Regions from separate parts of the Homo sapiens genome. Here regions 2, 3, 4, 5 and 6 are each reported to be linked to region 1. The links are microRNA targets in miRTarBase. Many come from high-throughput screens and were not tested one by one. Region 1 holds a microRNA gene; each other region holds the end of a gene's coding sequence.

Region 1 (5,200 bases):
AGTTTCACACACACACACACACAGAAATTCCAACATGATTGGTCAGAATAGGTGAGGTTTTGCTGCAATAACAAACAACTCCTAAATCTTGGTAACTTCAAACATCAGAAGTTGTTTTTCTCACTCATGCTACATCTGCAGGGAGGTATGGGATGCTCTGTTTTCCATCAAACCTGCCCTAAGACTAAGGCTAATGGGGGTTGCATTACCTCGAGTATCACCAAGCAGGGAACAGAGGGAGAAGAATGCTAGAGAGTCTTGTACTAAGAATTAAATGACCCAGGCTAGAAGTCTCACACTGCACCTCTGCCCCCAGCCTCTTGGCCAGTGCTAGCCACATCCCCTCCCCCACCACAGGGCAATGCATGAAGACAGGAGAATTGGATACATTACAAATTTCTACCCCATGGCATTTCATAAAAGAGAAAAAATGCAAATACAAAAATGTTTTAATAGAATAGAATATATACATTTTTAGAATACAGAACAATCCTCCAAAAAGGACAGCTGGTGGTCTTTCACCAATGGACACATTTCTGTGACATTTTCTCTGTTTTTCCATTTTATACTTGACCTATGAACATTTTGTACAGATGGTCCAAAGAACACCATTTGGGGACCACTGCTCTAATCAGGTGATGAAAACGGCCCCAAGAACAGAGCACAGTCTCTTTAGCAAAGACCCAGCAGGGCCAGGGTGACCATACTCTCACCATCAATGTGCAGATATCCACCTGCAGCATCCTCACATCCCATCAAACAGTGGCTCTTTATAGCTTGATTCTGATGTCCTTTGATCTTCATAATCATTGTAAAGCTCTCTGGCCCCAAGATCTAACATCGCCACTCTAGCTACATCCTGCAACTGTTCACCACTCCTGCCTCCTCATCCCTCTAGACTTCTCTTCACAACCTCATGTTTCCTTCTTGCTTTACTTTCCTGCTCAGCCTGGACCTTACAGTCACCTTCCTGTAATGTGCTCCTAAACTCTTTCTTCCCTGCTTTCAACCACACCCACCTGGAAAATTTCCATACCCCACTGATGACTTGCCTTGCAACTGCCCAAGGGCTGCTGAATGATACTGGAAAGAATCACAACATGGATCTGGTAGTTCCACTAAATAATCTCACCATCCAACTCTAGGGTAGACTTCACTTCTGTTCAGCAATATTTTTAAGCATTACAAATAAATTCCGAACCATATTTGCTATAACAATTGACTTTAAACCTCTTCCATATCTCAAAGTCCCCCAAACCCATCCCTAGGGGTTTCAGGGCCCAGAGTTGAGTTCTCTCAACTCACTTCCATCTCACCCCTAGATCACTGTATCTTGACCCTCTTCCTCTGCCTTTCCCATCTTATAAGGAGAAGCATCCTTCTCCTTTCCCAAGCTACCTTCTCCACTTGTGCCTCATTTGAGACCTCCCTTTATCACCCGTTTCCTTGGAACTCCCATGACTCACCACCTTCACTTGTCATTTCACTCATAAATATTTTGCACCATGTATGTGCCAGGCGTTTAACATATAATCATGCTAAAGTCTCCACATGCTAACAAGAAAAACCTTGATTATCCCTGCTATGCCCTCAAGTCATTACCCTCCCCGCTCCTTTCCTGTGTTCCCAAACTTTGTTGATCTTCATCAATCCCTCTGATGCAGATGGCTCTGAAGTTTGCACCCTATTAGGTTGGTGCAAAAGTAATTGCGGATTTTGCCATTAAAAGTAATGGCAAAAATAGCAATTATTTTTGTACCAGCCTAGTATCTTTTCTCCTTCTACCAAACTTTGTCCCTGAGCCATCTCATCACCTATAACTACCTCCTCCATGCAGTTGATTCCCAGATCTGTATTATTCTACTGAAAATCCATTCCCCAACTTTCTTGGCTAGAATAACAGAAGCCCAGTTAGAATTCATGATACCAGTTTCCCACCACCACCACCGTCGCCCTGCCATTGTTAGCAAAACCATCTCTTGAGTGGAGCTCAAAGATTTGTAATCCCCCACTCCCCAGAAAGATAACTTCAGACTCAGCCTAGAAGTAAAGATCCTCCAGATATGGCCTCAACTACCCTCCAACCCATGTCCCCAGTGCATCCCTTTGATGCCCACTTCGGTGGAGTTAAAACGGAGTGAGTGTTTTTCTTTTCACATACTCCTGGTGTTCTTCCACAAATACAATTTTCACCTCTTGAATATTTTCAAGGATTCTCTATGCTACACACAGTGAAATCCAAACTCCCCATCAGGACCCCAGTCTTCCCAAATGCTCTTTGCACTTTTCCACCTCCATGCTTTTCCTTGGATCATCCTCTTCTCTAATATAACCTTGTGTATTACTCTAGGTTCTCCAGAGAAAGAGCAGAGAGATAGAGGTAGAGCTATACACATAGAGAGAGACAGATTGTTTTGTTGTAAGGGATGGCTCACATGGTTATGGAGGCTAAGGAGTCCTGGAGTCTGCAGCCAGCAAGCTGGAGACCCAGGACAGCCAATGATATAGTTCCAACTCGAGTCCACATCTAAAGTCAGGAGAAGATTGATGTCCCAGCTCAAATATAATCAGGTAAAAAGAGCAAATTCTCTGTGACTCTACCTTTTTGTTTTGTTCAGGTCTTCAGTGGATTGGATGAGGCTCACCCATATTGGGGAGGACAATCTGCTTTATTCAGTCTACCAATTAAACATTATCCTCATCCAGAATACCTCAGAGACACACCCAGAATAGTGTGTAGCCAAATATCTAGGCACCCCACAACCCAGTCAAATTGATACATAACACTAACCATCATGTCTTGCTTCTACTCTCTCCCCATTACTGCATGTCCAAATCCTTCCCTTATTTCAAGGCTTAGTTCAAATGTTACCTCTTAACTAAGCCTTCCCTGCAAACCCCAAATATTAATAGAATTGGTTTCTCCCTTCTCTGATATCTCAAAATACGTTGTGTGTTTCTCTTTTACTGTATTTATTACAAACTCCCTTATAAATCAAGACAATGATTCCCAGACAAATTATCAGAAGAGTATAAAAGAAGTCTTCTTTGAGTGTGAAATATCTCATGGAATATAGCACATGGCCTCTTCACGAAGAAACTACTAGAAGAGAAGAAGACAAGCTGGAAGAGGCCAGGGAAAGGGGGTTAGTACAAAACACAATGAGGCTGGGCTCATACAGTGGCTCACCTGTAATCCCAGCACTTTGGGAGGCCAAGGCCGGCAGATCACGAGGTCAGGAGATCGAGACCATCCTGGCTAACATAGTGAAACCCCGTCTGTACTAAAAATACAAAAAAGTTAGCCAGGCATGGAGGCAGGCACCTGTAGTCCCATGTACTCGGGAGGCTGAGGCAGGAAAATGCTGTGAACCCGGGAGGCAGAGTTTGCAGTGAGCCGAGATTGCACCACTGCACTCAAGCCTGGGTGATAGAGCAAGACTCCATCTCAAAAAAAAAAGAAACACAATGAAATGTCAGTGGATGGGTGCCTATAATTTCTAAGGGAAATAGAGTATAATCCAAGAATTTTATAGCCAGGTAAATTATTGCCCAATCAAAATAGGCAAAAGACACTATCACATGTTCAAGAACTTAAAGAATACAGTATTTCTGAGCTCTTTAAAAAAAAAAAGTCTTCATAATAAAATTTAGTCAGCCAAGAAATTACAAAATAAGCAACTTGTGAATTGAATGACCATGACAAAAGGCTAGTGATGAGAGGTGAATCCATTTAAAAATAGGACTACTATTGCAGAACAGAAAGAAAAGGTGGTCAACCTTAACAACATAAAACAACCTAGAAATAACTAGTTTCCAGAGGTAAAGGGAGGGACTGTAGGAAGTAGAAGTGCTAATGCCCTTTATTAAGCCAATTAATCAGGTCTAAAATTGAAACGTGGTTTCAAATATATAACTTCTTTTTTATTTTCCTCCCTAACTACCTGAGGATCAACCACCATGATGAATGACACAGTAACTATCGGGACCAGGAAGTTCGTGACCAATCGACTGCTACAGAGGAAACAAATGGTCATCAATGTCCTTCACCCCAGGAAGGCAACAAAATGTACAAGACCACAATGGGTGTCATCTTAATAGTCGGACTCAGAACCCATTTTGGTGGTGGTTAAACAATGGGTTTTGGCATGTTATCTGGTTCTTTGAATTATGCAAAGAAAAATGAACTCAAACATAGACTTGCAAGACACGGCTGGCATGAGAAGAAGATGACCTCAAAAAAACAGCAAAAGGAATGCAAGGGCAGAATGAAGTCAAGAGACTGCAAAGGCCAATGTCAGTGCTGGCAAAAAGCAAAAGGAGTAAAGATTTTGCAATGACTTTATTTGCAGTGACTGTACAAATTTTTCATGAGATGATCAGTCAACTGTAAAGACTTCTACATATATATAATACATCTTAATATTTTTCATCATCTTTGATTTCTTAGATGTTCTAGAAACTGATTTTTAGTGAGGAAAAACTACATTTATCTGAGTTGACCAGTTCGTTCAGTTTCACTTCCATTTCTTTTTCTTCTGATAAATTTACACAGCATTCAATTTGCTACTTCTTGTTTTTAAAATCTCATTTTGTGTGATCAGAAGTATCTGTTCATGTCTCTAGCCATCTTTGTGCATAGCAAGGAATGCTGTTCACTTAATATTATGGAGGTTTATTTCTTGGGGTCATGAGATTTGGGGTGATTTCTCTCCCTTTTTGTACTTTTCGGTATTAATTTTTTGAGACAATGTCACCAATGTCCTTCATATTAATATTTGGACTCAGAATCCCTTTTGGTGGTGGTTAAACAATCATCACCCACATTGGAGTGCAGTGGTACGATCTCAGCTCACCAAACCTCTGCTTCCCAGGCTTAAGCGATTCTTCTGCCTCAGCCTCCCCCGTAGCTGGGATTACAGGAACGCACCACCACTGCCTGGCTAATTTTTATATTTTTAGTAGAGATGGGGTTTCACCTTTTGGCCAGGCTGGTCTTGAACTCCTGACCTCAAATGATCCACCCGCCTTGGCCTCCCAAAGTGCTAGGATTACAGGCATGAGCCACTATGCCCAGCCTTTTCTGTATTAAATTTTTTAAAACACAACATTTAAAATAATCAAGTCATTCTTTTTGAATCTACTTTGTATTATAGGTATCCAAATACTCACCTATTCTCTCTCACATGATGACAAACTT
Region 2 (5,200 bases), not on the chromosome of region 1:
CCTGACGGACACTGTGTGTGAGGAGTCTAGCAGACCATGATCGTTCCTGGCTCTTGTTTCCAGAAGCACTGGAGAGGACTGTGTGAATTTGAAGTGTGTGAAATTAAACTCATAGATGCCTCAGTAGTTAATGAAGAATAAGTAAGCCTCACTGTTCAACTTTAGTTATTTTTGCCCCTTCTCCTGGTTTTTTACATCCCAACCACCCCCAGTTTTGCCTTTCACGTCTATTTGACATAGCAACCACTCTATTGCTGGGTAATTTATGTTCTGTTTAAAACAGAAATATTTGTGCCTGTAGTCTACCATTGCTCAATTTGTAATTTAGCTTTGCAATGAAAGCTTCTAACAGTTACACCTTGTCCTGGTACATTGTTGTTTCAGGCTTATTAGTTTGCACATGTTTTAGTAATACAACCACCAGGCCGAAGGTCTTGCTTCTATTCTTACATAATTGTACAGTGTGAATCTTTTGACAATTCTTTAAGGAAAGAATAACAATGCTACCTTACATCCTGCAGTTAACGCTTTACAGCGTACCTTGAAATACCTTATCTCATTCAGAGCTCATGGTAACTTTGCGAGTTAAGAACACTGTCCCTGTGACAGATCAGGGAAGTGCAGCCTAGAGAAGTAAAGAAAGCTAATAAGGAGTGAAGCTGGACCTGAAACCTGTGTCTTTTGATTCCAAGCCCAGCATGCACCACAGCTGGACATGTAAATCAGAGTTTAATTTTCTTTTTCAAAGCTCTGGCTTAACTTCCAAGCGACTTGTAACGTGTTGGCTGATGCCGCAGGCCGTTGTTGTGAGAGGAGCCATTCTGTTCACAGCTCCTCCCTGCCTTTCTAACACTGTTTGATATTACAACATGAATATAATAAATATAATGATAGGAATAAATATAAGCTCTGCCCTTTTTTTGCAAATTTTGTTAATTTTCATGCCGCTACTTTGTGTTTTTCTTTTTCAGTATTTCACCTTCTTATAAGACTCTTCCATCAGTATCAGAAACGTTTCCAACGTTAAGATCGATGATTGAGGTGCTAAACACAGACTCTTCTCCACGTTGTCTTAAGAAACTCTAGTTCTGCTGCTGTATTTATACAAGTAAAGGGCCGGACCTCTTGCTTCTTAAGTTATTTTTTAAAACATGGAATTATAAAGAAATTAGGTCCTCTATTACTTTTGATACCAATTTTTATAGGAATTGAATACTTGAAATCATTTTCTTTACTTTTCTGAACCATAATGAAAATCATGAAAGAGGCTTTCGGGGGGAAAAAGCTACTTGACTTGGAGGGAAAGCGTATGTATTAGCCGGCAGCCTGTTGGTTCCCACTTATAAAGTCATATAACTCCTTCCTTACAGTAAAAAAAATTTTCCTCAACAACTAAAATATAATACTGAAGATGAACAAAAACAAAACCAAATAGGAGTGTTTGTATTCCTTTAGAGATCTGGATATTTTTCAAAGACTTGCTTTTTACGCACATTGTGATAGAGCATCTTTTGTTGACTCACGTAACCTCCATGTGTGGGTCCTTTGTTTTATTAGAACCATGGAAGAAGGTTCCTGGGCCATCAGTATGTGTTGCAGAGCTCACAGCCAGGAACACTTATTTTGAACAATGCAGACAGTACTTGCCAGAGTCCCAAATGCTGAATTATTGAACCATGTTTTTTTTTCCTTTGTTGAAAAAAATAAACCAGGGTGATTTCTATAAATCACCAGTTTTTGGCATTGGATTATGTATGTGTTTATTTTGTGAACCAGTTTCACTTTCAGGTATAAGAACATTCAGAAAGTCTCTCTTGTTTTTTTTCCCAGACAGGGTAAATGACAGTGAGTAAAATGAGTTAATTAAAACTGTTGCTGTTTCCAAATGGCACCATCCATTAGCAAGCTTGCTCTTCTCTCCCTTCTACAGGATGCACACCCATCTCTTTGCTTGGCCACTTCTCCCTGTCCATTGTAATTTCTCTTGGACCACTTCCGGAGTCTCCTGACTCATATTCCTGCTGCTGCTCGGTTTAAACCCCACAGCCTCCTTTTGTCCTAAAATGAAACGCAGTCTCCTGCTGTAGCCTAGCTGACGTGGCTGTGTTTCTCTGATTGAATCTCTTACTCCCCACACTGTCCTTTGTTTGCACCATCAACTCCCCTAGCCTTTTCCTTTCTTGAGAACCTTACAGTTAGCTTGACACTGTCCGATAGAAATTCTGTGATGACATTCCAGAATGTTCTGTGTGCTGCCAGTATGGTAGTCAGTAACCTCATGTGGCTACTGAGCACTTGAAACAGGACTAGTATGCCTGAGGAGCTGAGTTTCACATTTAGTTTTAATTAACTTAAATTCAAATAGCTGCATGTAGCTAGTGGTTATTATATTGGCCCATGCAGCCTACAGAGTTCCTAGTGAGACTTTAAAGGTTTTTCCACAGAAATAATCCAGAATGGTGGTCTCCCAGTGTAAGTTAATATCATTTTGAATTTGTGGTTATAGACTTGCCTGAGTAGCTAAGCTCTTACTATGATCTGTTTTTATTCGCAAGAGTTCCCATACCAGATATATGGAGTTTTCCCCGCATAGCAACCAATTATGCAGCTTTCCATATATCAGCTGGAGTGGGGAGGGATCCTGCAATTCACATCTGACACTAACTTCCTGGAGTTAACACAGACCCCAGAGGTTAAGGGCTCAGTCTCACAAGACTGCCCCCTTTTCAGATGCCAGTTGCAAGTCAGGGCCTCCTGTACTTCTGACTGATTGGCTATAACTCGGGGGTTCCCATCACACCCTCCCTCCTCATGTTTGATAATTTGCAAGAATGGCTCACACAATTCAGGGACACCCTTTACTTACTATTACTGATTTGTTATATCGGATACACATGAACAGCCAAATGGAAGAGGTGCACAGGGCAAGGTATGGGGGGGCAGCATGGAGCTTCCGTGCGCTCTCCAGGCCCACCACCGTCCCCCCACCTGGAAGTGTTCACCAACCAAAAACCCCCAAACCTTTTCACTTAGGGTTTTTATGGGGGTTCCATTGCATAGGCATGGTTGATTAAATCATTGCCAATTAGGTCAATTCTCAGCCCCTCTTTTCTCTCTGGAGGCTGGGGGTTAGGACTGAAAGTTCCTCTAATCACATGGTTAGTTTCTCTGGCCCCCAACCCCCATCCTCCAAGAGTCATCTCATCAGCATAAATTCAGATATGGTTGGAAGGTGCTTATTAATAACAAAAAACACTTCTCATCCCGATCACTCAGAAAATACCAAGAGTTTTACGAGCTCTGTGCCAGGAACTGGAGGGCAGAGATCAGATATAGCTTTCTTATTACCTCGGTATCACAGTTCTATCGATAAAATTGCTCCTGTGGATCAAGATGTTCAGACTTTTAAAAAACTAACTTTAAAGGCCGGGCGCGGTGGCTCACGCCTGTAATCCCAGCACTTTGGGAGGCCGAGGCGGGCGGATCACGAGGTAAGGAGATCGAGACCATCCCGGCTAAAACGGTGAAACCCCGTCTGTACTAAAAATACAAAAAAATTAGCCGGGCGTAGTGGCGGGTGCCTGTAGTCCCAGCTACTTGGGAGGCTGAGGCAGGAGAATGGCGTGAACCCGGGAGGCGGAGCTTGCAGTGAGCCGAGATCCCGCCACTGCACTCCAGCCTGGGCGACAGAGCGAGACTCCGCCTCAAAAAAAAAAAAAAAAAAAACTAACTTTAAAAAATCTAGAGCAAAATTTGCTAGTACATTAAGAACTTTAGTGTGGAATTTCTTTGGTATAGAAACTGTATGAGGGACAGGAAACTGACCTCCAACTCTGTGATCATTACTCTCTGATAATTTGGAAATATGGAATAAAATTGATATGCCTCAGAAAGAGAGACCAGCAAAATCACCTAAAGAAACCCACTGTGTCCCAGACCAGCAAAATCTGAGTGTTCATGAATACATCTTAAGATGTCTGTAATGGAGCCCATCATTCCTTCACCCAAAGTCTGTTTCTCCCCACGCTTCTCTGTGTCAGAAATGGTTCCCTTTTCACTCAGCAGCTTCAGCCAGACACCCAGGCAGCCTCCAGAGTCTACACTGCCCTCCTGCAGTTTTCAAATGATCACCATCCAGTCCGATCCTGTTTACCTCTAAGAAGATCCCAGATCCATTCATGTCTTACCATCTCCATTGTTACCCCCAAGCCCAAGCTACTTAAAGCTAAACTAATCAATATTAAACTAAATCGAACGCTTGTTTCTGTCTCCCTAGCTGCCTTTCAAGTGCTCAGTAGCCACATGTGGCTAGCAGCTATCACATTGGACAGAGCAGACATGGGACAGCCCCATCATCACAGAACATCCCACTGAGCAGCACTGCTATCCTGAAAGCAAACACACTGCTATCCCCCCAACCCAACACACTGCGCATCCCGGTGGTCTTAAGCAAGGGTCCAGGAGGTTTTAGGGTCAAAACCACAGTGTTTGGTGGCAGCATGGGGGCACAAATTAGAGAAAGAAAGAAAAAACACTTCTAGACTGGCTTGAAACGTTTCCTTCTGTTTTCTGATCCAAGGTGTCTGTGGTTAGGCCCGGGATCTCCATCTTCACCTAAACCTCACGTGCTTCACACAGAAGTGGTCTGGGAACCACACCTGAGAAACATCAAACTAGAATATCATGAAAACAAGTATGTTCTTGAATATTAGAGCTGTGATTAGATTTACAGTAGCCCTTTTTGCTTCAAACTATGTTCCCATAAATATAGAATCCCTTTAGTTTTATATGTTGTAAACATAAATTTTACCAGTTAAACTAGTCTACAGAAAGTTGGATATACAAAATGAGATCACACTACACTGTGCTTAATTTTTAAAATTTACTTTTTTCAATTAACACATAATGAATTATATGTCAATAAATATATTTGTAACATTTTAAGTTGGATATACACATATATATGTAATTAAGTCTTGAACACAGGCAGCTTAGTTGAACACAACTTGGTTCACAAGCTCCAATAAAGAGTTTAACTTGTGCCCATTCAAGGTGACACAGACGTGCAGTTTTGAATTGCCTTGTTTAAGTTCCCAGCCTCCTTGCCTTCGCCCTTCGGGGGACAGTCTGATTTCCTGAGCCAGGCGTCTTGGCCACCCTCGGGCCTTTGCCCAGATCCTCCGCACTGAGGTTTAGCTCA
Region 3 (5,200 bases), not on the chromosome of region 1:
AGGCCTGCCCTAGGGGAACACAAGTGAGACTTGGCTGGCAGGCAGAGATATGCACTGAGTACATGGAGGTGTACTCAAAGTACACTGAGAGAGGGGCTCAGAGGAACATGCAGAGATGTGATCTGAGGGTCACAGTCCAGGATGTTCACTCAGAGGTACACAAAGAAAGACCCAGACACAAGGCTGGGCACTGTGGTTCATGCCTGTAATCCCAGCACTTTGGGTGGCCAAGGCAGGTGGATCACCTGAGGTCAGGAGTTCGACACCAGCCTGGGCAACACGGTGAAACCCTGTCTCTACTAAAAATACAAAAATTAGCTGGGCGTGGTGGCATGTGCTTGTAATCCCAGCTACTCGGGAGGCTGAGGCAGGAGAATTGCTTCAACCCAGGAGGCAGAGGTTGCAGTGAGCTGAGATCACACCATTGCACTCCAGCCTGGATGACAAGAGTGAAACTCCATCTCAAAAATAATAATAATAATAATAATAAAAGAAAGACCCAGACACAAAGAGTCAGGCAGTAAGAGATACTCGGAAAGAGACAGAGACATGGTCTGCCAGAGGTTTGGACCCACAGAGACATAACCAGATACATTGAAAGAAAGGCACAACCAGAAACACTAAGTGCATTTGCTTGGGTGCACACACACACTGAGGCAGGCACACTAAGAAACAGGAACCAAGCTCAAGTTTCACAGAGACTGATTTTAACCCAAGCAGATCTGAATTTTAAGGAAACATGAGCTCCTCCAAAGTGGGCTGTGGAGATGGCTCAGCACAGGAAGAAGGGACAGAGGTGAGATAGGGGATGCAATTCTCCCTTCATGTCCTCACCAGAAAATGGATTACATGGAATGGGAGAAGATAACTTCCTTTTTTTTTTTTTTTAGACAGAGTCTCACTCTGTCACCCAGGCTGGAGTGCAATGGCATGGTCTCAGGTCACTGCAACTTCTGCCTCCTGGGTTCAAGCGGTTCTCCCACCTCAGCCTCCCAAGTAGCTGGGACTACAAGCGTGTGTCACCACGCCCAGCTAATTTTTGTATTTTTAGTGGAGATGGGGTTTCACTATGTTGGCCGCGCTGGTCTCGAACTCCTGACCTCATGATCCGCCCGCCTCGGCCTCCCAAAGTGCTGGGATTACAAGCGTCAGCCACTGCGCCCGGCTTTTTTTTTTTTTTTTTGAGACGGAGTCTTGCTCTGTCGCCCAGGCTAGAGTGCAGTGGTGCGATCTCGGCTCACTGCAAGCTCCGCCTCCTGGGTTTATGCCATTCTCCTGCCTCAGCCTCCCGAGTAGCTGGAACCACAGGCACCCGCTGCCACGCCCAGCTAGTTTTTTGTATTTTTTAGTAGAGACAGGGTTTCACCGTGTTAGCCAGGATGGTCTCGATCTCCTGACCTCGTGATCCGCCCGCCTCGGCCTCCCAAAGTGCTGGGATTACAGGTGTGAGCCACCGTGCCCGGCCGGGAGAAGACACCTTCCTAAAGGAGATGAAGAGTTGTTTTGCTAGAACTTTCTGACAGCCAGAACTGCTGGTGGAAGGTACACCTGGAGGTGGGGTGAGGAGGTGGGGAGCTTCCCTTCTACCCCTGGAGGGGTGACACAGCTGCTGCCTGGCTCATGTCCCTTTCAGCCCCTGCCCTGACCCACTGCTCCTGGTCCTGGCCGGGCCTTACCCTCTCTCACATGGCCTGACCCTCCAGGCAACACGTTCCCTTGGTTGCGGCCACGTGCTTCTTTGCCCTGCATCCTGTGTGTGAGCCCCTCTTGTCTCCCCTCCATCTCTCCCAAGAGCCTTCTGAAGTCAGGACACAGCACGCTATCGCCCTCACACTTCCTCCCTCCCCTTTCTCGGGAAATTCAGAATCCATGGAAGGAATCTGAGGAGGAAGAGGATATTGAATTCAATGACCTTTAAAAAAAACAGCCTTTAGCATCCTCCCTCCACTGCCTCCCCACCCCCATCTCTGGTTCTGCAGGAAAAATCATGAGGTGACATTTATTGAGGATTTACCATCTGCTAATCACTGTGTTAAGTCCTTTCCATGAATCATCTTCCATTATTTCCTCCTCTCAATATCTCCCAATTCACAGATAAGGGAGGTTCAGGAAAAGAACATGACTACCCCAAGGTCACCCAGCTAGAGAATCCTTGCTGGGCCAGGTGGCAGCACCAAAAGTGCTGCCAACACCCCCTAGGCTGACTGGTCAGGGTCAGCAGCAGGATTTGAGAGAAATGGGTGACAGAAGGACATGGGGCATGCTGGGGAGGACAGCAAGGTGAGGGCAGCCCAGGTGGGACTGGTGTGGCTGGAATGACCCTCTGCAGCCGTATTCCCCTCCCAAGGTTTGCCCTTCCTCCCCCCAGGGCCTGGGAAGGGGACACTCCCTCTGGCTCAGGTCCCTCCAGCATTCCAGACACGCCTCTTGGGAGCTGGGGACAAAGAAGGGATAGAAACCTAAAATGGTATTGCCTTCTCCTGCCCTCACCTCCGTAGGCAGATTCTTGGCTGTGTGACCCTGTGTTTGCCACCCGCCCTCTCTGGACCATGATCTCATCTGTGAAGGCTGGAGAGCAAAAGCTGGCTTAGCTTCTAAAAACCACAATTCGCCTGCCACACCCAGGGATCCTCTGGCTCCCATGGGGTTCGCTCAGAGGAGGGATTGGGTAGGGGATGCCTTCCCTTGTATTGCATGAAGTTTCCCTTGATGAAACTTGAGGAGGGTATGGTAAGGAAGAAGCAAATGAGAAAAGCTTCCTGTTCTCAGGTGTGCCGAGCCCGTTGCTTTTCTGGGCAAGTCAGAGCGCCAGAGTCAGTCTTCCAACCCCCTGCCTTACTGGGCACAGAGGTGCCTCTGTAGAAGTGAAGAAATGACTGAAGAAATGAAGCAGAAGGGGAGATGAGCGTGAACGCAACTGCGGGTCTTGGCACTTAAGACAGCTGACTAGAAGTTGCTGGAAGAGTGAGGCAGAGCAGGGATGGCTTCCCGGAGGAAGAGGCGTTAAAGCAGATCATGAGGACTTTAATGAGCAAAGATGTGAGTTGGGACTTTGGAGCAAAGTCTGAAGACACAAAAACACAGAAACACATAAAGTAGGCTGAGGTGGATGGAGCCATGTGAGAGGAGGGGTAGGCTCCTGACCCTACCTGGAGGTCCTGAACGCCAGATGGAGCATTGTGGATGGTCTCCAGATGGGCACTTTCAGCAGAGGTTTTGAAGAGATCCCTCTGGTTGCTTTGTGGACTGACTGGGGCAGGCCTGGAGGCAGGGAGGCTGCCAGGGGGGCTGTGGCCAAGGTCTGGGTGGAGGTTATGGAGCCTGAATAGCTGCAGGTTGTGGAGGACAATACAGGTTCCCAGTCTGATGGGTCTCCTCCAGGAACAGGGAACTCACCACCTCCTGGGCAGCAGTTCTCCCCATTGGGTAGCTCTGCAGCAAGATCTTCCCTGCATAGGGCTCAAGCCTTTCTGGGGTGATGTGTGGGTACAGGGATTGGGAAGAAGATTCCATTCATTATGCTGGGGGTACCCATGAGGACGGAAACTTGGGGGAAAGTTTGGGACCACTGAGTTCAAACTGAGAGCCTTGGTGAAGAGGCTCTCTAACCTCTCTGTATGACCCCCAGGGTAACCTGACCAGATCAGACACTCAGCCGGGCACCCTGGGTCAGTGTGGGCATGCGGAAGCTCCTTAACTGGCCCCAGAAAAGCAGCAGAGCAAGCAGAAAGATATTTGCACAACTGGAGGTTTTAGGCACATATTTATTTTATTTTTTTTAATATAAAAGTAAAAGAGTACATTGTTGAGTAGAGGATTAAAGGAGTGACGACCCTTTCTAAAGTGGGGTCTCCCATCCCGGATCCCTAAGACTGTAACATCTGCTACATACATTAAAAACAAAACAAAACAAAAGCAAACATGAAACTTATGACCTGACTTCACTCCACCCTTCATGCCTGCATTATGACAGAAACACGTCCCACTGCTCCTACTTATGTATGTACATCCAGAGCTCCAAACCTAAGCTGTGGCCCCCTCCTCCCAGCCCTACCCACATCCACCCTACTTCCCAAAAGCCTGTAGAAGCCCCCACTTAGAAAAAAAGGCAGACATACACATACACAGAAACACATATCTATCTGCAGCTCCTCCATGTGAAGCCCCTGAAACATACACACCCTGGAACTTTCCTCTCCTTATGCACAGATGGACAGGCTGCCTTCCCCTGTCTCTGGGCTCCCCCAATAGCCAGAATCCCTTCCGACTGGTCCCTTGCCCTGAATATCTGGGAACCCCCCCCACACACACACACCCCTGCACACACATGCACACACATGCACACACATGCACACACACACATACCTGCTGCCCATTCTCTTCCCTTGGGAGACAAAAGGATGTATTGACCCAAATTCCGGTTCCACCCCAGCTTAGGGGCAGTGGCCTAAGGTGCTATTTGGGCAAGGTCCAGTGGAAATCCTGAAGGGGCTGTCTCGTGGGGTGAGGGTAGATAGGGAGCTCCTTAGCCTGAAAGGGTGGATCGTGAAGGGGGCTTCTTGGGAGTGGCCCTTGGACAGTCAGTGGATGCTCAAGGCCAGGGCAGCGGAGTGGGGAGATGGCCCCTGCCCACTCAGATCTGCTCCTTGTGCTTCACATGGGCCAGCTTCACATTCTCTTCCTCGTTGGAGGGTGGGGGCTGCTCCAGGTGGCAGCCGATCATCAGCTGGTACACGAAGACACCCGCAATGGAGCCCAGGAGTGGGGACACGATGGGCACCCACCACCAATGCTGGCCGGTCCTGGGGGGACAGACACTCATAGTCAGGGACATGGGGGGCAGGGCAGAGGAGAGGCAGGCTGGGGTGAGCTGGGTGGGGGCTGTACTCACGTGAAGACTGCAGAGCCCCAGCCCGCAAGGGCTGTAAAAAGGCGGGGGCCAAAGTCCCGGGCAGGGTTGACGGCATAGCCGGAGTTGAAGCCCATGGAGGTGCCAATGACCAGGACCACCAGGCCCACGGTGAAGGCCTCCAGGCCTCGGGGGACGGGGTTGTTGTAGGGGTCAACAATGGCCAGCACACACACGATAAGGGAGGCTGTGCCTATGAACTGGGGAGTGGGGAGAACAGGGTGAGCTGCAGCTCCCTCCCTTTCTCTGACCCCTCCTTCCATCCCCCGTCTTCCCTCTAGCTCTTAAACT
Region 4 (5,200 bases), not on the chromosome of region 1:
GTTAAAACAAAATTAGAGAATCAGCATTTTGTAACACCAAAGAAATAACTGATTTGGGCAAGTATAATTAATGGATAGGTTGTTAAGGAAAGGGATATTCAATTTGATGCCAAAATATCACCCCATAGAGCATTTGCTGAGTTCAAAGGGAAAAAATGTATCTTTACAATGAAAAGATAACCAAGTGATTAAATTTAGCGTCACTAACAATGGAACCACCTGGCATTATATCCTCCCGCAGTAATTCAATATTAAGTACACAGCATCTTTCCTGAAATGCTAACTCTGAATTTCATCTAGTACCTACTTGACAGCAGGTACAGTAGACAGAGGAACAAGTTAAATTACACCACGAAGAAACAATCAGACAAAAGCAGAAAGTGGGAAAACTACAACTGGTCTGGTGCAAAAGGTCAATGCAGAGGGGAAGAGGTGACCGGCTGTTCAACACAGAGACTGATGAGCTACAACCAAATGCAATGCACAAACCTCAGCTGGCTACTGACGCAAAATAGCAGGACAAAGGCCATTTGGGAACTAATGGAAAAACAGAAATTTGTACAAATGGTTTCATCCCTCAGGAGGGGCACGCTTACACCACAGTAACAAAGAGCCCAAATTCTCAGTGGCTTAAAACAAAGGTTTATTTCTCACTCCCACTTGTATCACAATGTTTCAGAAGTGTGATGCTCCCTAGCCTGTTGCTCTTTATACAAGAGTAATTCTGAGGTGGGGCGTGGTGGCTCACGCCTGTAATCCCAGCACTTTGGGAGGCCAAAGCCAGTGGATCACCTGAGGTCAGGAGTTTGAGACCACCCTGACTAACATGGAGAAACCCCGTCTCTACTAAAACAACAAAATTAGCCCGGTGTGGTGGTGCATGCCTGTTATCCCAGCTACTCCGGAGGCTGAGGCAGGAGAATCACTTGAACCCAGAGGCGGAGGTTGTGGTGAGACAAGATTGTGCCACTTTAACTCTGTCCTGGGAAACAAGAGTGAAACTCCGTCTCAAAAAAAAAAAAAAAAAAAAAAAAAAAAGAATAATTCGGCATCCCTTTAAGAACAAACAAGATGTTTACTGACCATGATGGGTGGTTTACAGCAGTGTTTCTCAAAGTATGATTCCCCAACCATTTGCATCACAATATCCAAAATATTGCTAAGTGCAAACAATTTATTGGTATGCAAATGATTTTAACTCCAGAGTCCCAACCCCTAACTACTGAATCAGAAACTGAACACCAGGGCTATAGAGTCTACTACTAGCTTCTGAAAGTTCCTTTCAGTTATGCAGGCCACTATTTTATAAAAGTTGCCATTTAAATGGATATTTTACTTTCCTAGAAATAACTAGAGTAGCACAAATACTGTTTATTAAAATGTCAAGGTTTCATGTTTACATTTTCTTATATCAAGTACAATGGTATATATACTTTTTTTTGAGATAATTATTCTAGATTCCAGGCTTTCTTCTAGATGTAAGTTCCTAAAGCTTATAGTTTACATTGATATCTAGACATATATCTTAAACAGTCTCCAAATTTTCTTTAATTAATCAAAGTATGTTAATGTCACTTGGAATTCTACATGGAAAAGCCAACAAAATAACTAAAACTTGACTAATGAAGATCAGCGTCACTAATAAAAGTCTGCAACTGTAGTATTAGGTTGGTGCAAAAGTAATTGCGGTTTTTGTCATCACTTTCAATGGCAAAAGCCCCAATTACTTTTGCAGCAACTATATAGTTTTATAAATGATCAGCATTTAATCCAACTTAGCATGTCAACTGGAAATTTTTCAATATTTTAAAGCTGACCTTCTGCAAAAAATGTTTCAAAACAGGCTTGACTGACACCACCTCCCTGCTCTGCTACCCGACCAAATAAATTGAATTTGTTTTAAAAGAGTTCCCTTCATCTTTACTCAAGATTCCCTGAGCTACTTCTAGCCTAGCTGACCTTTTCAAAACACCCTCAATAAAATTATCCTCTTGTCAGCCAGTTATTTTCTTCCTCATATTTACATCCAGATCTGCCTTTGGAGAGACATTTCACCTCGAATGTTTGTACTCAATGGACCCTGCCTTCCATCAAGTTGGCAAGGGCACAAAAAAATAGTGATTGTAATATAAGCAAGTGACAGGAACAAAATGAAAACTTAATGACATTATTACCTACATCTGATGGGCCTTTTAGCCCACTATACCTATTTTAAATATTCTGGAAATTATTTTTGTATGAAACAGGTATTATTTATCAACAAACTTTTGGAAAATAAACTCCTCAAACCTTATGCTGTTATGTTAATGTAATGGGCAAGTCTACTTGCCTAGGTGAGAAGAAAAAAAAAACAACTACAACTTGATTCCATTTGTTTTATCCAGAAGAAAAACATTCAAAGTAAAATGTGAACATTTAATTACCTTTAAATCATATATGAAGTAATTTACATGCTATACACTTCCAAACACACTGAACATAAATTCAACTTTATAAGACATATACACAGTCTGCTTTTGCCAACATATACCCTGTAGGTCACTTAAGATGTAACTGATTTCTCAGTCCACCTGTGAGCATATAAACACACAAATATATGTCTGAAGTTGAAGATTAAGATAATAAACCAGAGTTGAATACAAGAAGTCAGCCACAGAAGATTCTAAAACCACAATCAGTGACTGGAACACCAAGGCACAAAAACTTCCCTTTGTAGTCACAGAGATTAAGTTTCCATTCCCAGTGCTTAAATATGGAAGCAGGATTGGTTAATCACATACTATATTTTATAGTGCATTTCTGTTGCTGTTTAAAAAGGAATATTTTTTAAATTACATAATGTATTACAGAAAAGCATTGGAAAAATAAACAGGATAAGATAAGCTCTCATACAATAAAGTTTTTTTTGGTCTGAAAAAGATGTTTATATTCAAAACTAATATAATAGAGGTGTAACAGAAAGTAGCATGAGGAACACTATGCAAATTGCCTAATACTCGAATTGTACTTCATGCCACCATGTTATTTAAATTTTCAATTTTAAAGCCAGTTGGGTGATATTGCTAATTCCAAGTGATAGTTTTGGGGTTTTTATGTTTTGTTTCTTGTTTTTTGGTAATTTAAAGATATGTACTAGTACACAGAATAAACAGTAAATATAACATGGCAAAATGAAATCTTTCCCAGAGTTTATGTTGCTTTTGTTAAACAGTAACTTTGTACTAGAATCTCTTTTTTTTTCTATATTTAACAAGAAGAAAAATAATGCTCCACATAGAAATGACTTCAAAATTCATGCAACCATGCACAACCTAAACTATCTGTACTTCCCTTTTTTATTTACCCAAAAGTTTTTGAGTAAACTGAAAGTTAGATACTCCAGGAACAGCAACTCATTGAGCAATAAGGCAGTTTAAAAATATACATATACATGTACTATTCATTGTTTCTCAGAACAGTTTTAGAGCTTTAGCTCTTTAAACTTACACAGTTGTGAAAGAAATAAAGCCAACCACAAAATAAGAATCAATGGAATGCAGTAATCCATATATAAAAGACAGTCAAATGTGCTTATACGTATTCAAGAAATCAATATTCTAAGCTGTAAATAATAAATTATCAAATGTAGCACTAAACAAATTATGATCAGAATAAACCTTCAGTTTCATTAATTTTGAATACAAAAGTGGGGCAGGCTAAACGTGAACAGTGTACTTCTACAAGTGTTTATATAGAAGTATTGTAGCATGCACCCCCAGCAGTAATGAGAGCACAATTCTTTACAAACAAAACAAGGCTGACCAGAAGAAAAACAAAACAAAAAATCTTGTTGTAGGCTGTAAAACTTAAGGGTAAAGAATCCACTGGGAATTTAAGGCTTTCTTAGAAATATTTTTCATGGCACTTTAACATTAAATATCACTAAAAGGCAAAATATGTAAATATTCATAGTTACAAAGCTACATAATTGAAAGTACATGCCATATCATTTATTAAGAAACTATGTTGTCAAATTTTGTTTTCTTGAAGTTAAATTGTACTTAAGGAAGGTTATTTATGTTTGGCTGAATTAACATAAATCATAAACGTCAATTCACTAGTGTACAGTGCAAATTGTGTTTTGAGTAAATACATCAAATACCACTCATTTCTTACAGAACTGAATGTCATTCCTTGCTGGAAATGCAATTAAAATGACTTATTTCTCTCACAAGGGTAGTTATTATCCTTCCTTCAACTATTAGCCTACTGTTAAACCCTAAAATTGTTATTAGACAAATTCCTTTTGGTTATGCTTACAGACCATCCTCACAATAATCCTTTTCTTGTACTGCAATCATTGCAGAAAAAACTCTATGAGTCTAACAAGTCATTCTTGCCACACCATACTCTAAGCTGACCACAGCAGGTTCTGATTTAGAAAACTCTTCTGCATATTCACTATAACGATTATCTGCCGGGCTGCTGCCCTCTATAGTTCGAAGAGCATCATTTACGGGTAGCAGAGTCTGCTCTTTAAAACACAGGGAAGTTTTGAGGTTAGGTGATTCAGGATGAACTGAATGTAACAATTCCTTGGTGAGGATGCCATCTGTTTGCTTATTTTTGCGTTGTTTAATTTTCTAGAACAAACACAAATTTGAAAAAATTACTAATTGCATAAGCCACAATATGTTACATGAAAAAAGAAAACATGCTTTTGCAAAATATGTTCTCTGTATGTATAATGCAAAACTAAATCTCAAAAAAGTAGAAACATTTAATGCATATGACATGGTTGAAAATCCTAATTGTGTACAATTTTTTGCTGTGGAAAATTGTTAGTTTTTATATTTATTAAACAAACAATCCAGCAAGACTTGACTGCAGGCGATCACTAGGCTTCCACACTTAAAATGGACATATATTACCTAGAAAGCATAACAGGTAAACATTTATAATAAAAGAAATGTGTATGAAACATTCACCCTGAAAACACAACAAACAAACTTGTGTAGCTAAAGGGCTCACTGACTATATAGAGTTTTTCTTACATGGTTTTCCTACAGTGGTTTGTTAGGTAAAAATAACAGACTTTAAACACAACAGAACTTTACTTTTTTAACAGAAGATTTTTAAAGTGTCCTGTGGCAGAGTATCATGCTCTCCAAATTCTTGGACTGTCCCGATAATCTTGTATTACCTATTATCCTGGACTTGC
Region 5 (5,200 bases), not on the chromosome of region 1:
TTTAATTACCTTCTTTTATTCTTTGTGCTATTCATAAATTTTACATCTGCACATTATATCTTATAATACAGTTAAAATTTTTCCTTTAAATAGTCATTAAGTCTTACAAAGAAATTAAGAGAAAATGGTATTTATAAATATTTGCAGGCAGATTCTTTGGGGCTATGTAAATACACTGTTTCTCCTTTATATTTTACCCACAATTTTTGCATTCTTCAATATATCTTGTCTACAGTAATTATTACTGTGGTGTTCTAGTGGTGATTTTCTATTTTGCATTTATCCCATTAAGGGAGAATGTATCTCAGATCAGAAATATTTGTTTTAATTATGAGATACTGTACTGTGTTACCTTTCTAAGATTAAAAAAAATTATGAACTATAACTGGCTCTAAGGGTTTCTTTTAAGGGAATTATATATTATTTTAGAATTCATGAATCTTTAAATAATGTAGCTGTTGTCTTTTAATTTCATGGTGAATACTAAGACTGGTTTTGTGATAGTTATTCTCTTTATGTAACTTCTACATATCTCTACTGTTAAAAGCTATCTTTTTCTTATGGTAAAATTGGTTTAGAGTGGTTGACAGTTTAAAGAGGGATTTGTGATGATATCTGTTCATTTTCATAGGGTTGGGGAGCAGAATATCACCGGCAGGATGTAACCAGCACCCCATGTTGGATTGAGATTCATCTTCATGGGCCTCTTCAGTGGCTGGATAAAGTCCTTACTCAGATGGGCTCCCCTCTGAACCCCATATCTTCTGTTTCATAATGCAGAAGTATTCTTTTCAATTATATTGTTAGTGGACTTGTTTTAATTTTAGAGAAACTTTGAGTACAGATACTGTGAGCTTACATTGAAAACAGATATTACAGCTTATTTTTTTCTACATAATTGTGACCAATACATTTGTATTTTGTGATGAATCTACATTTGTTTGTATTCATGTTCATGTGATTAACTCTTAGAAGTGTTGTAAAAGATGCAGAGTAAGTATTATGCCCCAGTTCAGAAATTTGGCATTGATCTTAAACTGGAACATGCTTTTACTTTATTGCCCTAACAATTTTTTATTAAATTTATTTGAAAATGCATCACATGATGAAAAATTATAGTAGCTTATAAGAGGGCATATACAGTGAAGAGTAAGTTTTCCCTCCTACTCTCGATCTTCCAGAAGCTGTACTTTTACCAGTTTCTTTGTCCCACCAACTTAAAAAAAAAAAGTACAATTCATTGTTTTGCAAAAGTGTATGGTAGGGGCTTAAAAGAAACTATAAAGTTTTATTTGAATGAACACTATGCACTGCTGTAACTGGTAGTGTTCAGTAAAAGCAAAATGATAGTTTTCTAGATGACATAAAATTTACATTTAATACAGATAAGTGTTCTTCAGTGTAATGTGACTTCATGCTATATATCTTTTGTAAGACATTTCCTTTTTTAAAAAAATTTTTGCAAATAACTGATCTCAAGTATATGTCATTTACTCAAAATCTGTCATAAGCATTACTTTATAGCTAGTGACAGTGCATGCACAGCCTTGTTCAACTATGTTTGCTGCTTTTGGACAATGTTGCAAGAACTCTATTTTTGACATGCATTAATCTTTTATTTTGCACTTTTATGGGTGACAGTTTTTAGCATAACCTTTGATAAAATACACTCAAGTGACTTGGACTTAGATGCTTATCCTTACGTCCTTGGTACCTTTTTTGTATTAACAAACACTGCAATTTATAGATTACATTTGTAGGAAGTTATGCTTTTTTCTGGTTTTTGTTTTACTTTCAACCTAGGTTATAAGACTGTTATTCTATAGCTCCAACTTAAGGTGCCTTTTTAATTCCCTACAGTTTTATGGGTGTTATCAGTGCTGGAGAATCATGTAGTTAATCCCATTGCTCTTACAAGTGTCAGCTTACTTGTATCAGCCTCCCTACGCAAGGACCTATGCACTGGAGCCGTAGGAGGCTCTTCAGTTGGGCCCCAAGGATAAGGCTACTGATTTGATACTAAATGAATCAGCAGTGGATGTAGGGATAGCTGATTTTAAAACACTCGGCTGGGCACAGTGGCTCACACCTGTAATCCCAGCACTTTGGGAGGCTGAGGCAGGCAGATCATGATGTCAGGAGTTTGAGACCAGCCTGGCCAATATGGTGAAACCCTGTCTCTACAAAAAATACAAAAATTAGCTGGGCATGGTGGTGCGTGCCTGAAGTCCCAGCTACTCGGGAAGCTGAGGCAGAAGAATCACTTGAACCTGGGAGGCGGAGGTTGTGGTGAGCCGAGATCGCACCACTGCACTCCAGCCTGGGCGACAGAGCGAGACTCTGCCTCAAAAAACAAAACAAAACAAAACACTCACCCATCAACGAATATAGACTCTTCTCTCATTTATCGATGATCCTCTTTTTCCATTTTTTAAGTACTTATGTGGAAGCTAGTCTCCCAAAACACAATCTTTAGAGAGAAAAGACATGAACGAACTCCAAAATATCCATTTAATCAATCATGTTTTTGGCTTTGGATAAAGAACTTTGAACCAGTTTTTTTCTCAGGAGCTGTCAAATGGACACTTAATTATGACATGAGAATGAAGAAATTATTTTGGAAAAAAAAAATGACCTAATTTACCTATCAGTGAAAGCTTTATTTTCTGGTGCCTTTTGAAAGTATATGGAGTCATATCATTCTTCTGTTTAAAATGTTAGTTTGGTTTGACTTTCCACTTTGTCCTTTCTGCTCTTGTGAAGAAAAAAAAAAGCATTTTCGAGGAAAGAATTATGCAATTTCTTTTGTTTTCTGTGTCATTATTTATTGCTTTTTCAATGTGCAGCCAGTGGATGGTTTTAGTTCTTTCAGATGAACTGCCATTTGTGTTTCAGCTCACAGTTCTTTGCTGGGTAAAAGAAATACTTTCTGACAGTCACCTGAGCCTTAAATGTAAGTATTACATGACATGCATTCTGTTTCTTCCAGAGTTCTGTCTGCCACACGAAAGAGAATATTTGCTTACTTGATAGAACTTTGGCATTTTCATCATTCTTTTACTTAACCAGGCTTATGGCATGATCTCTGGAACAAATTTGTAGGAAAAAATTACTCCAATTGAATGACTGATGTATGTAATCAACTTCATTGGGCTGCAGTAAACTAGTGGAAATTAGAGAGTTGTTTTATTGGTGTTTTCTACTGTGAGTTAATTAAAAATTGTTTTTATTTGGGGTCATTATGTCACAGTCTTGAGTTAACAAGATCTTACGTGATTGGCCTTTTCTTTGTTTTCTCTTAGGAGTTGTGTCTCATGAATGACAGTACTAAAGCTATTAACAACTAAGAGTTTGACAGAGAACTATAAGCCTGTTGTATCTCCTAAAAGTTGTCAACTCCCCACCCTTGGACTTTAAATGAAAATTTTATTCAGTCCAGCTATTCTTACAGTCCCTAAGGATTTTCATATATCTATGTATAGGAGATAAAATTTGCTAGTAAGATTTTTAAAAACTGGCTAGTGAAAGGAAAGTACCTCTGAAAGAAACCATTTTAGCAAATTATGGTTATATGTTTTAATTTAATCTACAGAATGTTTTATAGTAAAATTCTAGCACCACTAGAATAATCACATAGCATGTACAATATATTTATGCTGGCTGAAAAGACAGAATCTGGGAATAATAAAATTGCAACCAGTTTGGTAATGCAAACAGCAGAATAGAATGAAATCTCAGTAATGAATTAAAGCAACAAAAAGATATTGATTGGCAAAAAGCAAGATATAAGAGATTCATTTGCTTAACATTTCTACATAATATTTATGGTCTGGTCAGTATTGGTCTGGTCAGTATTGCCTGGCTGACGTGAAATGTAAACTAGTAGGCGTGTTATTGATCTGCTAAAACTAACCCTCTTTTTAAGAGGAGATTTAAGGAAGACGTCAATCAAAATGTCAAATATGTGTGTCAGAATATAAATAATTTTTCACATTGTATTGTTGCTATATAAAAAAAATAATAGAATTGGTTGGGTTTCTGAGGTGAAATCCAGAGTAAGAGTACTAGACAGTTCAACAAGCCACATCTAATGGCACAGATAGAGGATGTAGCTATTTTATACCTTTCATAACATTTGAGAGTAAGATATCCTTCAGGATGTGAAGTGATTATTAAGTACTCATACCTGAAATCTGTTGTCAAGATTAGAACTGGGGTTCATGTTAAAAACCTTCCATATTACCTGAGGGTACCTGTGGGGAACAGTTCCTTCCCCTGTGTGGTAGTATTTTGTTGGAAGAGAATGTTTATACAAAAAATGAAATTCTTCCAACAGCAGAGAAACTCTAAAAAGTTTGATAGTACCTATCAAAGTGCTGTACTTCTGTGATAGAGAACATCTGATGTACCAATTTAGATCTATTTCTTTATACTTTTTCTAATCAATTGCTTAATAGTACTTTGGATGATTATCACCTTTGCCACTTAAAATATATAAATATCCTTTTTACTTCATGAGGAAGGAAGAATTTTTTGATAATTACTGAGTTCAGCCTTTTGTGATGACTTATATTTTGGACTTACATTTTAACTTTAAAGAATGTCAGATCCCTTCTTTGTCTTACTAGTTAAATCCTCACCTAATCTCTTGGGTATGAATATAAATGTGTGTCATCGTTATATTGTTCAGCTAGATGAGCAAGTATCTTAGGGTAGTAGGTAGCCTGGTGGTTTTAGAAGTGTTTGGTGATTTTTATGGAGAGAGTTTTCCTAAGTGGTGGTTTATAGGTGGTATCAGATATTATTAGGGCAGCTTTTTGGGGAGTAATCTCAGGTCTCCCAGAGCAGCAGCATTTTTCTCATTGATATAAGTAAGATTCTTAGGAGCTTTTCTTATCACACAAGATGCCTGAATCGAATGTGAGAATTGAAGGCATTTCTTCTGCATAAACAAAGAATTCTACCTGCTGGACAGAAACCTGGAAAGTTCTTTGGAATTCGCTGAATTACAGTTTAGTATGTCCTGATTACAGAGTGACAATATTTATCAAGCCTTTGTTATATTGGATTATCTTCTCTCTTAAAATACAACTGTATTATAATTGAAATGACAGCCCAAAATTGGATGGTTTACCAAAACCAATGAAAGGGATTTCACACATCAATTTTTATTTCTGTTTTGAAGAGCACATGCTATATA
Region 6 (5,000 bases), not on the chromosome of region 1:
ATGAGTGGCTTCAATGGGGTGTCAAGAGTAAGCATGGAGAGCGGATTTTGACTCATGGGTAACCTCCGACATGCCAGCATCTATTAAACTGTACAGACAATGGGAGCAAGCCCATTGTAGGGAGATTTGTCTCACATCCTAGCAGCCCTGGGGCCAATGCATGGGAAAAACTCAGTGATGCCAAACCAGAGACAGACCTGCCCATTCACAGCTCTGAGGGGAAATAAAACGTGGGAGGAAGGCAAGAGACACACAAAAAATAAACATACTAAGTAAAAGGGGGGTGGTGTAGGCAAACGGGGGTGTTGGTGGAGGCGGTTTTCAAAAGAAAAGTCAGTGACCACAACTCTGAGAGCAATGAATGGAAAGGAGGAGTTGAAAACTGTTTTTCTAATTATTTGAAAATAATACAAATGGCTGCTGCCGTTGCTAAGGCACCGGAGAAAAACAGAGTCCCTGAAAATCCACAGGTACTGTGTGACTCTTCCTTTCACAACGACACAGAGAGGGAAACAGCCCCATTTAAGCTTCCTACACTGATTGGTTTGCAACCATTTCCATGAGTGAGCTGCACATGATATTGATAAAGACTCTTCCTGGGAAAAAATAAAACAGTCCATGAAAACAATCACAAACAGAAAACCAAACCAAACCAAAGTACAGAACTGTTTCTAAATTCCCTATCCTTTTCAAACCAACATGCTGGTGGAGAAGGGAGGGTGGGCCACAGGGCTCCAACATCAGACCTTGAAAACACCGAGGACAAAATATCGATCAAAAAAGTCATGTTGTTCCAGGTCCCAAGATGATGGAGTCATAAGATTGGGTGGGCAATGACCACACATGAGTCCTGTATGGAGCAGTGTCTCAGCCACTTGTGACTCTTTTTTTCAGCCATGGTACACATTGGATGTTTCAAAGCCTCAATGCATGTTTTGTATCCTGAAAGTCTATTGTTCTCACTTACAAAAGACATAAGAATCAAATTAATACTTTATTATCAAACACTATGTACAACAGAGGTTGCTAATAATACAGAATTTAAAGAACGCAGTTTTTTTTTTTTTTTTAATGTTTTACTTTTCTTTCCTCTGCCACCCAAGAAAGTACAGTACAAAACAATAGTCTAAACTAACACGAACTGTTACCTGGTCTATTAAAGGATACACGGTATCCACTAAACAGACAGATCCTTATTTCCCTGCTTGATGTTGCAAAGCCCTTGGCAACCAGGGGCAAAGGTCACTGGGGTTTGACTAACTGGGGCTGAGTGGCAGCTATGACTGTCCTTCAGATTTTTGAGTTGTTTTTGAAATTAAAAGCTTCTAAAAGTTGCATCAACATCCTCCTAAGCCCCCAGAGGATTGTAACACCACCACAAAAGGCCACCAACACTTTTTAAACAAAGTGAAAACTGTCTGACACCAATCATCTTGAAAACTCCATGGCAAGTGCATTAGCTATGATTTCATCACTTACAGGTAGAGAAGCTTACTGTCTACTGGTGTGGACACTCTTGCTATTTTCTTTATACTTAATTTGCAGTGGCAGAATGGTGAAGTAAAGGGGTCTAATTTCACTGTGAAAAAATGAAAGACAATGGCAGAGAGGGCCATGAGTAATTATTTCACCATTTGTTAGAGACAAATGCTAGGAAAACCACAGAAGTCACCATTTCTAAAATGCATTTAGCACTGCTAACATAGTTATGACTAACTGGAATCATGACAGGATCATTTGATTTCCTTGTGGTTATAGAACATGCTGTATTATTTTGGTTCTATTGATCCATTTTAGAAGGTATCTTTCTCCCCCTACCCAAATCCCACTGGACCAACAAGCCTGTAACTATTAATTAAAAAAAAAAAAGTATTTCTGCATATGACTGAGAGTACTGCATATATAAATAGCTAAAGGAAAAAGGAATTGAATGCCGTGAACTTTTGTTTTGGTGAAATGGTGGCTGCCTTCTGTGATAAGACTCTGCCACTCCAGAGGAGTTCCTTATGTCAGAGGGGAATAGGATTGATTGTATCTGTGAGGCTGGCAACCCCACACACATGGTTCCATGTGAGAACAGACTCGGCAGTGACATCCACTCCAAATGGATCAGGTAAGCCCAGATTACATTTCAACATGTGTACAACTCTCCAGGGCACAATACGTTTACAGCTGCCTTTCCTTCACATACTTTTCTAATTCAGAACTACTCACAATTCTAAGCAAATTCCCATTCACGAAGTCTGTCCATAATGCGACCTTCTCTTTTTTTAACATATACATCTTAAAAAACAAATATATAAAAAATTCTTATTTTGCTGGAATGCTTTCAATTTTTCACATTTTACATGATCATCACATTTATTTCTTATATTGAAAGGCATGGTTTCTGTTGACATGTCGTGCAAAGCCAAAAAAAAAAAAAAAAAAAGGGCTGGATTGCTTTTCAATTGGTCTAACACTTTTCCTTGTCTAGGCTTTGGATTTTAAAGTTCATGACAGCCCCACCACCAGTAGAAACCCCAAGGCTTGCATTTCCTGGTAATCGACTGGAAACGTCCCCTGTTGGCCATGCTAAGATTCCTTCAACAGGGTCATCCTGCATTTATTCTCCTTCTGCCCCACCCCCACAATGAAACAAGATAGCCCCCATATTTCTAAATGTATCAAGGGATACCACTTTTTCTCACAAGTTTAAATAGGACAAGCATATATACTCACTCTCAGCATAAAGTATATCTAAATAATGTATTTTCTATTCTAGTGGATTTTTAAAAAAATATTTTGTTAAAGTCTTTGGGACTCCATCTTGTTTATCTCCCACAGATAAACACATGTTCCCCCTACGCTTTAGGCTGTGTCAGAAAGGGAAAGAATATAAAATCAACACTTGAATTTTTTTACTCCAAACTTTGGAATTTTATTTCCAAATTTCCCTTTAGCCCTCCCAAGTAGTGCTGACTGACTCTCCTGGTGACAGGGGTTTGTGTCCGAGCCCCTGCGGTCAAGGAGTGTGGAGCAAAACGTGGGTACTAGGGTGGGAGGCGGGGAAAGGCCACAGCACACTGGCGCTCCAGCAAAGCCAAATCATGTCTCCTCTGGCCACTGCGGTCCTCTCCTTGGTACATGTCATCCCCCAGAGGAGTATCCAAAGCTATTCCACTATGCACTCATCAACCCTGGCTTGTCAGCCTTGGGGAAGGTCACTTTATTCATAAAAATGCCTCTTTGAGTTTCTTAAAAAAAAAAAAAAAAAAAAAAAAAAAAAAAAAAAAAGTTGTAGCACCATGGTGATCTGTATTCAAAGAAAAAATATCTGGTGTGCACTGCCCAGTCACCAAAAAAATTAGAGGCACTCACACATACACACCCCCAGCAAACCTGTAGTTTTCTCTGTTTTCACACCTGCTCTGTATTAGCATTCCACACCCAACCTGCCTCCTAGAAAAAAAAAAAAGGCTTCTTTTAGAGAGCACAAGTTTTGCTGTCAAGAATGCTTTAAGACAGTCATATTAAAAAAAAAAACCAGTGTCTCAACCTTTTAGAAGCCTGTTCATTTACATACTCCTATAGGAAATGGTGTAATATCGTATCTATTCTTAATACCTCCCCTCCGGACCTGACATGGTGACATGATGCCCTGCGCGATCATCTTACAGTTCTGAATGAGAAGGCATAAATATTGCATAGGAGAGCAAAACCCTCCCAGCCCTAGCCAGCGCTGGCTGCATCTGCCACTATTCTTCCTTGTCCATAGCCCGCTGACACAGTGCGCTAACGGAGGTGAGTTCTTAGAGGAGAATGCACAGGAGCTGACGAACCACTGGTGTCACTATGACAATTTGGCATTTTCATCTGGAGTCCATTTAATTTGGGAGGGGTGAGAGAAGCCAAGGGCCAGGGCTGGGGGTGGGGCGGGGTGGGGTGAGGGAGGCAGGAACAAGTTTAGGCCCCCAACCTGAAGTTGTTGCTTAGAATTCAGGCTGAAAGAAAGAAAACAAAAATCTGACATCTGCCAAAACCCAATAACAAGTCCCTTCTTAGGATGAGCAGTTAGGTGGATCTCTGGTGTTCCAAGACCCTGATGTTTTCTGTGACAAGTGATGGGAGGAGACTGTGCTATAATGTCAAAAGCATCGCCAGGAGGAACAGTAGGATTGCCAAAAGGCGGCTGGGTATCCTTGGTGTTTGTGCCGCGTTCTCGCCGCGGGATGGCTCGGCTGACTCATGTACGGTGTCATCTGTTCAAATAGAAAGCACACATTCCAATGAGATTTCACATCCTTAATAACTCTCTTGCAGCAGCCTGCTGTTAACAGACCTCGCCACCCTCTGCAAAGTAGGGTAATGAACCTTGTGCCACCATTGACTTTCATGTCTGCATAATCACTCATTATTTACAGCAAACAAAGAAGAGGCAAAGAAAATTGGACTTTCTCAGCAATATTAATACTTTCCTTAAAAATTGAGGGGAAAAATTATGCATACACCGTAACCTTTGGCCTGTGAGCTGCTTTGGTTAGCCAGCAGTCAGACACGCCTTGCACAAATTTCAGATATCTGAATGTACCTTTGAAACCTAAGATGTCACAGGCAAGCAAGTGACATGTTGGTGGGGGTGGGGGAAGGGGCAGTTATGTTGGCACAGTAGTGGTTAACCAGAATGCGCTGCCCATTTCCCTTCTTTTAGCTGTTTCATAGGATTAGTGTTGAATGCCTGGTTGTTGGATGCCTAGACGAATTTTCAAACATGAAAAACTAAATGCCAAAACAGCAGCATTTTGGATAAACTATACATCATGCCTAGTAAACTTCAATAAACGTATGCCCACTAGTTTGCCTGCAATTAGGTGTCAATTATGGTGCTATTTCTATTACAAACCCTGTATTTCTAAGATTAAATTACTTGAACTTGACTATTTTTATTTTTATCGGGCTGAAGCTTGGCACATAAATTATCAGCGTGGATGCAAATTTTCCTCTAAATAAAATAGATTAAG

What was found. Region 1 holds the annotated microRNA hsa-miR-548i (AAAAGUAAUUGCGGAUUUUGCC, at 1,700-1,721, shown strand). A microRNA usually pairs through its seed, bases 2 to 8, with sites in the 3' UTR of a target mRNA and lowers its output. Matches are read on the target gene's strand: a 7mer-m8 pairs with bases 2 to 8, a 7mer-A1 pairs with bases 2 to 7 and ends in A, and an 8mer does both.
Region 2: the mRNA of TTC13 is a reported target of hsa-miR-548i. Seed matches in the 3' UTR shown: 7mer-m8 at 1,181-1,187 and 7mer-m8 at 1,232-1,238.
Region 3: the mRNA of AQP3 is a reported target of hsa-miR-548i. Seed matches in the 3' UTR shown: 7mer-m8 at 3,787-3,793.
Region 4: miRTarBase lists MTMR6 as a target of hsa-miR-548i. Seed matches in the 3' UTR shown: 7mer-m8 at 2,398-2,404 and 7mer-m8 at 1,677-1,683.
Region 5: miRTarBase lists SMAD5 as a target of hsa-miR-548i. Seed matches in the 3' UTR shown: 8mer at 1,051-1,058, 8mer at 1,514-1,521 and 7mer-m8 at 1,789-1,795.
Region 6: miRTarBase lists EFNA5 as a target of hsa-miR-548i. Seed matches in the 3' UTR shown: 7mer-A1 at 2,730-2,736.

Annotation. Positions count from the first base shown.
Region 1 is chr3:125,787,014-125,792,213 of GRCh38, reverse strand. MIR548I1 (microRNA 548i-1) reads left to right here and starts at 1,662; the gene lies at 1,662-1,810. The region is part of intron 3 of LOC112267908 (translation initiation factor IF-2-like); the gene reads right to left. All of the region lies in intron 1 of LOC105374312 (a long non-coding RNA gene), which reads right to left. It also overlaps the pseudogene RPS24P9.
Region 2 is chr1:230,902,791-230,907,990 of GRCh38, reverse strand. TTC13 (tetratricopeptide repeat domain 13) reads left to right here. Exons shown (of 23, transcript NM_024525.5): 23 at 972-1,748. The coding sequence ends at 1,086. Among named protein-coding and RNA genes, the nearest start is that of C1orf198, 37 kb to the right of the region's middle.
Region 3 is chr9:33,437,410-33,442,609 of GRCh38, forward strand. It overlaps AQP3 (aquaporin 3 (Gill blood group)), which reads right to left. Exons shown (of 6, transcript NM_004925.5): 5 at 4,892-5,109; 6 at 3,751-4,802. The coding sequence ends at 4,634. Among named protein-coding and RNA genes, the nearest start is that of AQP3, 7.6 kb to the right of the region's middle. RefSeq lists a silencer at 1,271-1,509.
Region 4 is chr13:25,244,871-25,250,070 of GRCh38, forward strand. MTMR6 (myotubularin related protein 6) reads right to left here. Exons shown (of 14, transcript NM_004685.5): 14 at 1,352-4,622. The coding sequence ends at 4,362. Among named protein-coding and RNA genes, the nearest start is that of MTMR6, 40 kb to the right of the region's middle.
Region 5 is chr5:136,176,706-136,181,905 of GRCh38, forward strand. SMAD5 (SMAD family member 5) reads left to right here. Exons shown (of 8, transcript NM_005903.7): 8 at 632-5,200. The coding sequence ends at 775. Among named protein-coding and RNA genes, the nearest start is that of SMIM32, 14 kb to the right of the region's middle.
Region 6 is chr5:107,377,136-107,382,135 of GRCh38, forward strand. EFNA5 (ephrin A5) reads right to left here. Exons shown (of 5, transcript NM_001962.3): 5 at 1-4,241. The coding sequence ends at 4,120. Among named protein-coding and RNA genes, the nearest start is that of EFNA5, 290 kb to the right of the region's middle.